Linked DNA regions of Homo sapiens: region 1 is reported to be linked to region 2. Evidence: microRNA targets listed by miRTarBase, many of them from high-throughput screens and not tested one by one. Region 2 holds a microRNA gene; the other region holds the end of a gene's coding sequence.

What was found. Region 2 holds the annotated microRNA hsa-miR-3180-3p (UGGGGCGGAGCUUCCGGAGGCC, at 1,708-1,729, shown strand). A microRNA usually pairs through its seed, bases 2 to 8, with sites in the 3' UTR of a target mRNA and lowers its output. Matches are read on the target gene's strand: a 7mer-m8 pairs with bases 2 to 8, a 7mer-A1 pairs with bases 2 to 7 and ends in A, and an 8mer does both.
Region 1: the mRNA of LSP1 is a reported target of hsa-miR-3180-3p. The part of its 3' UTR that is shown has no 7-base or 8-base seed match.

What each region holds. Positions count from the first base shown.
Region 1 is chr11:1,886,957-1,890,342 of GRCh38, forward strand. It overlaps LSP1 (lymphocyte specific protein 1), which reads left to right. Exons shown (of 11, transcript NM_002339.3): 9 at 281-358; 10 at 518-620. The coding sequence ends at 607. It overlaps PRR33 (proline rich 33), which reads right to left. Exons shown (of 1, transcript NM_001395380.1): 1 at 1,122-3,386. The coding sequence ends at 2,189. Among named protein-coding and RNA genes, the nearest start is that of PRR33, 3.2 kb to the right of the region's middle. RefSeq lists a silencer at 251-417.
Region 2 is chr16:2,134,416-2,137,801 of GRCh38, reverse strand. MIR3180-5 (microRNA 3180-5) reads left to right here and starts at 1,673; the gene lies at 1,673-1,825. It overlaps PKD1 (polycystin 1, transient receptor potential channel interacting), which reads left to right and starts at 1,904. Exons shown (of 46, transcript NM_001009944.3): 1 at 1,904-2,327. The coding sequence starts at 2,113. RefSeq lists silencers at 1,536-1,795, 1,806-1,975.

The DNA of each region.
Region 1 (3,386 bases), not on the chromosome of region 2:
GGACTGTCCAGGATGAATGTGGGTATACAGAACCCTGAGGTATTGCAGTAGGGTTGGGTTCACCCTTGCTGGTGTAGAAGGCTGTGTTGTCCGAGTGGAGGTAGATGGCACCTTTATTCCTTTCCCTGCCTCTTCCACTGGGATCACACAGAAAAAGTTTAGGTAGGCAGATCCCAGGCCCCCTGGCCAGGTAAGGCAAGGCGGGAGAGAAGGGCCCAGGGCTTCTACTCCCCAAGATCCAGGGGTCTGCCCTTGTGACATACCCTTCTGCTGCCCCCAGGATATTGTGGCTGGAGACATGAGCAAGAAAAGCCTCTGGGAGCAGAAGGGAGGCTCCAAGACCTCATCAACAATTAAGGTAGAGCCTAAATGTGGTTGGTGCAGGCAGGGTGGGTGCAGCAGGGGAGGGCAAAGAGGGACTGTCCTCTGTGCATCTGGGAGGGCTTCCCAGAGGCGGAGGCAGCATCATCTCCTTTCTGCTGCTCTCACCTTCACTCTTGGTCTCCTTTCCCAACAGAGCACCCCATCTGGGAAGAGGTATAAGTTTGTGGCCACCGGGCATGGGAAGTATGAGAAGGTGCTTGTGGAAGGGGGCCCGGCTCCCTAGGCGTCCCATCTCGGTGAGTCCCTGGCAACTCACAGAAGGGGATGAGGTGCACACACGTGCACTGTGCTGGGAACTTGGCAACCTGGAGGCTGCCTGGAGCCCTGTTGCAGGCTACAAGGGTGGACTCCGAGTTGGCCAGAACCCAGACCAGCTCAGTCTCCCAGTCCTGTGCAGATGCTGCCTCTCTCACCTGATACCAGATTCAAACTCTCTGCTCATTTCACTAGAGTCAGCCCGGCTCAGCCACTGCTCCACTAGGGAAGCTCAAGGCTCCCATCTGGGACTCCCCAAAAGCCACAGCAGGGCTCGTGAGGGAAGTGAGGGGCAGCCTGGCCACCACAGGGCTAGCATTGAAGGAAGCAGGTGGCATGGAGCCCAGGTTCCCTGACCATCTGTATGCTGAGGGTCCATAGAGGGGCAGGAACTTAGGTCCTACTCCCTGTCCCAGCCGAGAGCGATTCAGAGGTCCTGATGCCCTCCCCATCCCATGCTGCAGACAGAGCAGTGCCACTCCTGCCATGGTGAGACACACATTTATTAGTGACCTGGGCCCCAGGCTCCATTTCCAGCACCCATCACACCACAGGGTGGGGCAGCTGTCCTCCTACCATCTTCCCCTGCCAAACCCTGACTCTCAAGCAGCTGTGGCAGAGGCTTTTTCTGGTACCTCTGTGTCCCTCTCCTGTGGTTGGCCACCCCCACCAGAGCCTGGCTGACTGCTGAGTAGGCCCCTCCACTCTCCCCACCAGGGCCACAGCCCCTTCTCTGTCCCGCTTGGCCAAGCTGTTCCCATAGGGTTGGGACTGAGGGCTCCCTCCTCATCCAGCTGTCAAAGCCTGGGCATGGCCAGTGCTGAGACCCTCGCTGTCCCACCAGCGAATCCCTCGAGTTCTGCCCCCTCAGGCTGTCAGCCCAGGTAGGGGAAGCAGAGGTGGGCCGAGAGAGAGGTCACGCTGGGCCCTCCTCCACCCCTGATGAGCCCCTCCCTGCCTGCCCCTGAGCACTTGTATTGGTGCCAAGTCCCACGCTGGCTGAGGGCTCCCCCCTGCACCCTAGTCCCAGGATCTGGCTCTGCCATCAGGAAGCACAGGCAGCAAAACTGCTGACTGCTCCTGACGCCGATGGCCAAGCCAGCCTGACCGCACCCATGCCTCAGCAAGCAGAGATCTGGCCCCAAACCTTTGACAGCAAAAGGTGACAGCAAAAGGGAGGATCAGTGAGAGGCCCAGGCCCCTGAGGAGCCTGGGCTAGGTCAGTAGATGCAGTCCTCTGCCATCTTACCTAAAGTTTTCATCCCAAGGCCCCCATCCTACATCCCGACGCAGACCCCTTCTCTGTTCCCCTCACACCACTGCAGCCCAGGGGCTCCAGCTCGTCCTCTCTGCCCCGTCCACCTGACCACCCTCCTAACCATGCAGACTTCCCTCAGCACCCCATGTGCCCTTCCCAGGCTGCCCTGCACCCCATGCCCCTTGGGCCCTGGTGCATCTTCATGCAGCAACTATGGGCCCCCAGCTAGAGCCTCAGCCCCTTCTTCTGTCCATCCCATGGTCCTGGGCTCTGGGGGCCATTCTGGCCACTTCACTGGAGCCTCCAGCCAGTCGCTGTGCGGTTGAAGTTCTTGGGCTGGGGGCTCAGCTCCAGGATGGAGCGGACTGTGGGAGGGGGCCGGGTGGCCTCCTGCAGCTTCCGGGCGTTGAAGCGAGGCCGGTACAGGAAGGGCAGGCGGGTGAGGCTGGCTGGGGTGTGCTCCCCACCGCTGGGCCCTGCCAGGCGCCCTTGGGCCTCCGCCACTGACATGCGGTACAGCACGGCATCCCACATCCTGGAGGTCCGGGAGGCGGGGGCCCGGGGTGCGGTGAGGGCGGGCACCTCCTGCTCTGTGGGGGCAGGCACCTCCTGCTCTGTGGGGGTGGGCACCTCTGGCTCCAGGCTCTGCCGCGGCTCTGGGCACGGAGGCTCTGGGGCCTCCTCCAGCAGCTGCTTCTTGAGCCACGTCCAGCCACTGAGCCGGGGCTTGGGTGCAACTTTGGGGACAGGGCATGGGTGAGGGCCTGATGGTGGGGTAGGGGATGAGGCCCAGGCAGGGCTGGACACTCGCTCGGCCTCAGCGGCGGGGCCAGCCATCGGGGGCTCCTCCAGGTGCTCTCTGCCAGGGCCCATGGGGACCAGGCTGTGCGGTGAGGACTCCAGCGAGCGGCAGGTCGGGGCTATGGGCACCACAACCCTGGCACTAGCCTCTCTGGGCACTGAGGCCTGGAAGCCGGGTGGCGGCCGTGGTACAGGGGGCTCCTCAGGCAAGGGACTGGCAGCCTGGACTGTGGTGGGCAGTGGGCGGATGTGAGCCACTGGGACCAGGGGCTGGGCCCTGGGGGGACTTGGGGTGGCATCTCCATCCTGGCTGTTGGATCCCACTTCTGGGGCTGTCCTGGGAGGCTCAGGGGTCCCATTGTGTGGGGATGGTGCCAGCTGGATGTGCACCTGGGTGACGTGGGTGCCCCCACCCCCAGAGACAGGGACGAAGCCACTGGGGGGCCGGGTAGGTTCTGGGGCCGAGGCTACAACCTGGGGCCCCATGGCCCTGAATTGAGCAGCTAGAATCCTGCGCTGGGTGAGGCCGATGGAGAACGTGGACTTCTGCAGGGGTGATGCCACGTGGTGGATGATGGGGGTGTGCGGGGAGCGGGGTAGGGCAGCCACCATGCGGGGAGCCTCGGCGGGGCGTGGGGCTTCAGGAAGGCGTGGGGCTTCGGCGGGGTGCGGGCCCTCAGCAGCGTGC
Region 2 (3,386 bases):
TCTCAGCTCACTGCAACCTCCACCTCCTGGGTTCAAGCGATTCTCCTGTCTCAGCCTCCTGAGTAGCTGGGATTACAGGCGCGTGGCACCACCCCCAGCTAATTTTTGTATTTTTAGTAGAGACGGGGTTTCACCATGTTGGTCAGGCTGGTCTCGAACTCCTGACCTTGTGATCTGCCCACCTTGGCCTCCCAAAGTGCTGGGATTACAGGCATGAGCCACCACGCCCGGCCCCCATGGTTTTTCAAATAGTTTAGAATTTCATTTCCAGGTAACTAATTTGCTTCTTTAAACATATGTCTTTTCTATTTAAGAAATCCTTTCTAAACAATTGCATTTTATTCCACAACCGCCTTCAAACAATCATTGAGACTTGGTTAATCTGTTTTGCTCATTTGGCAGCAGTTTCTTGTGGCTGTTTCTTCCCTCCACTGGAGTCCTTGAATCTTAAGTCTGTCATTTGACTGCAATTAAAAGCTGGGTTTGGAATACAATCGCAGCCTTACCATCCACCTGCTGTGTGACCTGGTAAATTTCTTTTTTTTTTTTTGAGACGGAGTCTTGCTCTGTTGCCCAGGCTGGAGTGCAGTGGCACAACCTCTGCCTCCCAGGTTCAAGCGATTCTATTGCCTCAGGCTCCCTAGTAGCTGGGATTATAGGTGCCTGCCACCATGCCCAGCTGATTTTTGTATTTTTAGTAGAGATGAGGTTTCACCATGTTGGCTAGGCTGGTCTCGAACTTCTGATCTTGTGATCTGCCCGCCTCGGCCTCCCAAAGTGCTGGGATTACAGGCATGAGCCACCACTCCCAGCCAGTTCTTTTTTTCTTTTTTCCATTTTTTTTTTTTTCGAGACAGGATCTTACTCTTTTGCCCAGGCGGGAGTGCAGTGGCACAATCACGGCTCAGCGCAGCCACTGCCTACTGGGCTCACACGCTCCTCCGGCCTCAGCCTCTCGAGTACCTGGGACTACAAGCGTGAGCCAGTTTGGCTAATTTTGGCTAATTTTTGTAGAAACGGGGTCTCGCCATGTTGGCCAGGCTGGTCTCCAACTCCTGGACTCAAGGGATCCACCTTCCTCCCCCTCTCAAAGTTCTGGGATTACCGGAGTGAGCCACTGTGCCCTGCTGGCAAATTTCTTAAACTGTCTGTGCCTCAGTGACCTCATTTAATAAAGGGAATAATTGTAGCACACTTTTTCTAGAGCTGTGAAGATTCAATGGAATAAATAAGGCAATAAATGAATGGATGGGGAATGAAGGATGTGGGTTTCCTCCCTCTTGTCTTTCAATAAGCTCTCACCATCAACCTCCCATTGCCTGTTCTCTCTCTTCCCCCTCTCTCCCTCTGTCTCTCTCTCAGCCAGGAAACCTGGGGTAGGGAGGCTTGGAGCCAGCGGGTGCGTCGGGAGGCTGCGGGTACTGACTCGGGCCGCGCACGGAGATTGCGGGAGAAGGATCCACACCGCGGAAGAAGGATCAGGGTGGAGCCTGTGGCTGCTGCAGGAGGAGGAACCCGCCGCCTGGCCCACACCACAGGAGAAGGGCGGAGCCAGATGGCACCCTGCCCACCGCTTCCCGCCCACGCACTTTAGCCTGCAGCGGGGCGGAGCGTGAAAAATAGCTCGTGCGCCTCGGCCGACTCTGCAGTGCGACGGGCGGAGCTTCCAGACGCTCCGCCCCACGTCGCATGCGCCCCGGGAACGCGTGGGGCGGAGCTTCCGGAGGCCCCGCCCTGCTGCCGACCCTGTGGAGCGGAGGGTGAAGCCTCCGGATGCCAGTCCCTCATCGCTGGCCCGGTCGCGCTGTGGCGAAGGGGGCGGAGCCTGCACCCGCCCCGCCCCCCCTCGCCCCGTCCGCCCCGCGCCGCGCGGGGAGGAGGAGGAGGAGCCGCGGCGGGGCCCGCACTGCAGCGCCAGCGTCCGAGCGGGCGGCCGAGCTCCCGGAGCGGCCTGGCCCCGAGCCCCGAGCGGGCGTCGCTCAGCAGCAGGTCGCGGCCGCAGCCCCATCCAGCCCCGCGCCCGCCATGCCGTCCGCGGGCCCCGCCTGAGCTGCGGCCTCCGCGCGCGGGCGGGCCTGGGGACGGCGGGGCCATGCGCGCGCTGCCCTAACGATGCCGCCCGCCGCGCCCGCCCGCCTGGCGCTGGCCCTGGGCCTGGGCCTGTGGCTCGGGGCGCTGGCGGGGGGCCCCGGGCGCGGCTGCGGGCCCTGCGAGCCCCCCTGCCTCTGCGGCCCAGCGCCCGGCGCCGCCTGCCGCGTCAACTGCTCGGGCCGCGGGCTGCGGACGCTCGGTCCCGCGCTGCGCATCCCCGCGGACGCCACAGCGCTGTGAGTAGCGGGCCCAGCGGCACCCGGGAGAGGCCGCGGGACGGGCGGGCGTGGGCGCGTTCCCTGGCCCGGGACGGGAAGCAGGACGCGGGCCAGGACGCTCCCAGGGCGAGGCTCCGGCGCGGCACGGCGGCCCTGCTAAATAAGGAACGCCTGGAGCCGCGGTTGGCACGGCCCCGGGGAGCCGAAAAACCCCGGGTCTGGAGACAGACGTCCCACCCGGGGGCTCTGCAGACGCCAGCGGGGGCGGGGCGCGGAGGCCGCGCTCAGCTGGGAGGACAAACAGTCGCTAATTGGAGAGGAATTGGGATGCGGCCTGGGGCTGCGGGGTACCCGGAGAGGTGGGGATGGCTGTAGGGGGCGGCAGGGAAGAGTTCCAGGAGGTGTCTGGAAAAGGATTTGATGGATGTGCAAGAATTGGGCTGATGCTTAGGAAGGGGCGATGAGGTGGGTCCAGAAGAAGGGGGGTGAACGGTGTGAGCAAAGACCGTGAGGCTGGAGGCTGGCCACGGGAGGTGTGAGGGGTAGGGGCAGGGTGGGAGGTGGGCTCGCGGGTGGGCTGGGGTCATGAAGGGCCTCAGGCGCTCTGCTATTGGGTTCCAAGGCTATCCTGAGAACAGGGGTGAGGGGGGATTGCCGTGGGGGGTTAAAGCCTTGTCATGTTCGCTTTCGGGAGATAAAAACAACAGGTGGCCTTTATGGAGACGCTGCCCAGAGCCAGGTCTGTGCCAGGCTCCTGTTGGGGGTCGTCATGCGGAATCCTGACTCTGACCATCCGAGGCATAGGGACCGTGGAGATTTGCATTTCACAGATGAGGAAACAGGTTTGGAGAGGTGACACGACCTGTCCCAGGCATCACAGCCGGGATGTGCATAGCAGGGGTTTGGAACTATGAGGTGCCCAGGACCCAGGGTTGGATTGAAAAGGGCGGAGGGGACTAAGATAAGCAGACAGTTGTCCCCAGCGCTGGGGAGAGTCTTGGGACCAGTCTGATGCCTTGTATTTCCCAGGCTCCAGGCTCCTCGCCGGGACAGTGTCTCCTTGGGTGCGTGCTGGAT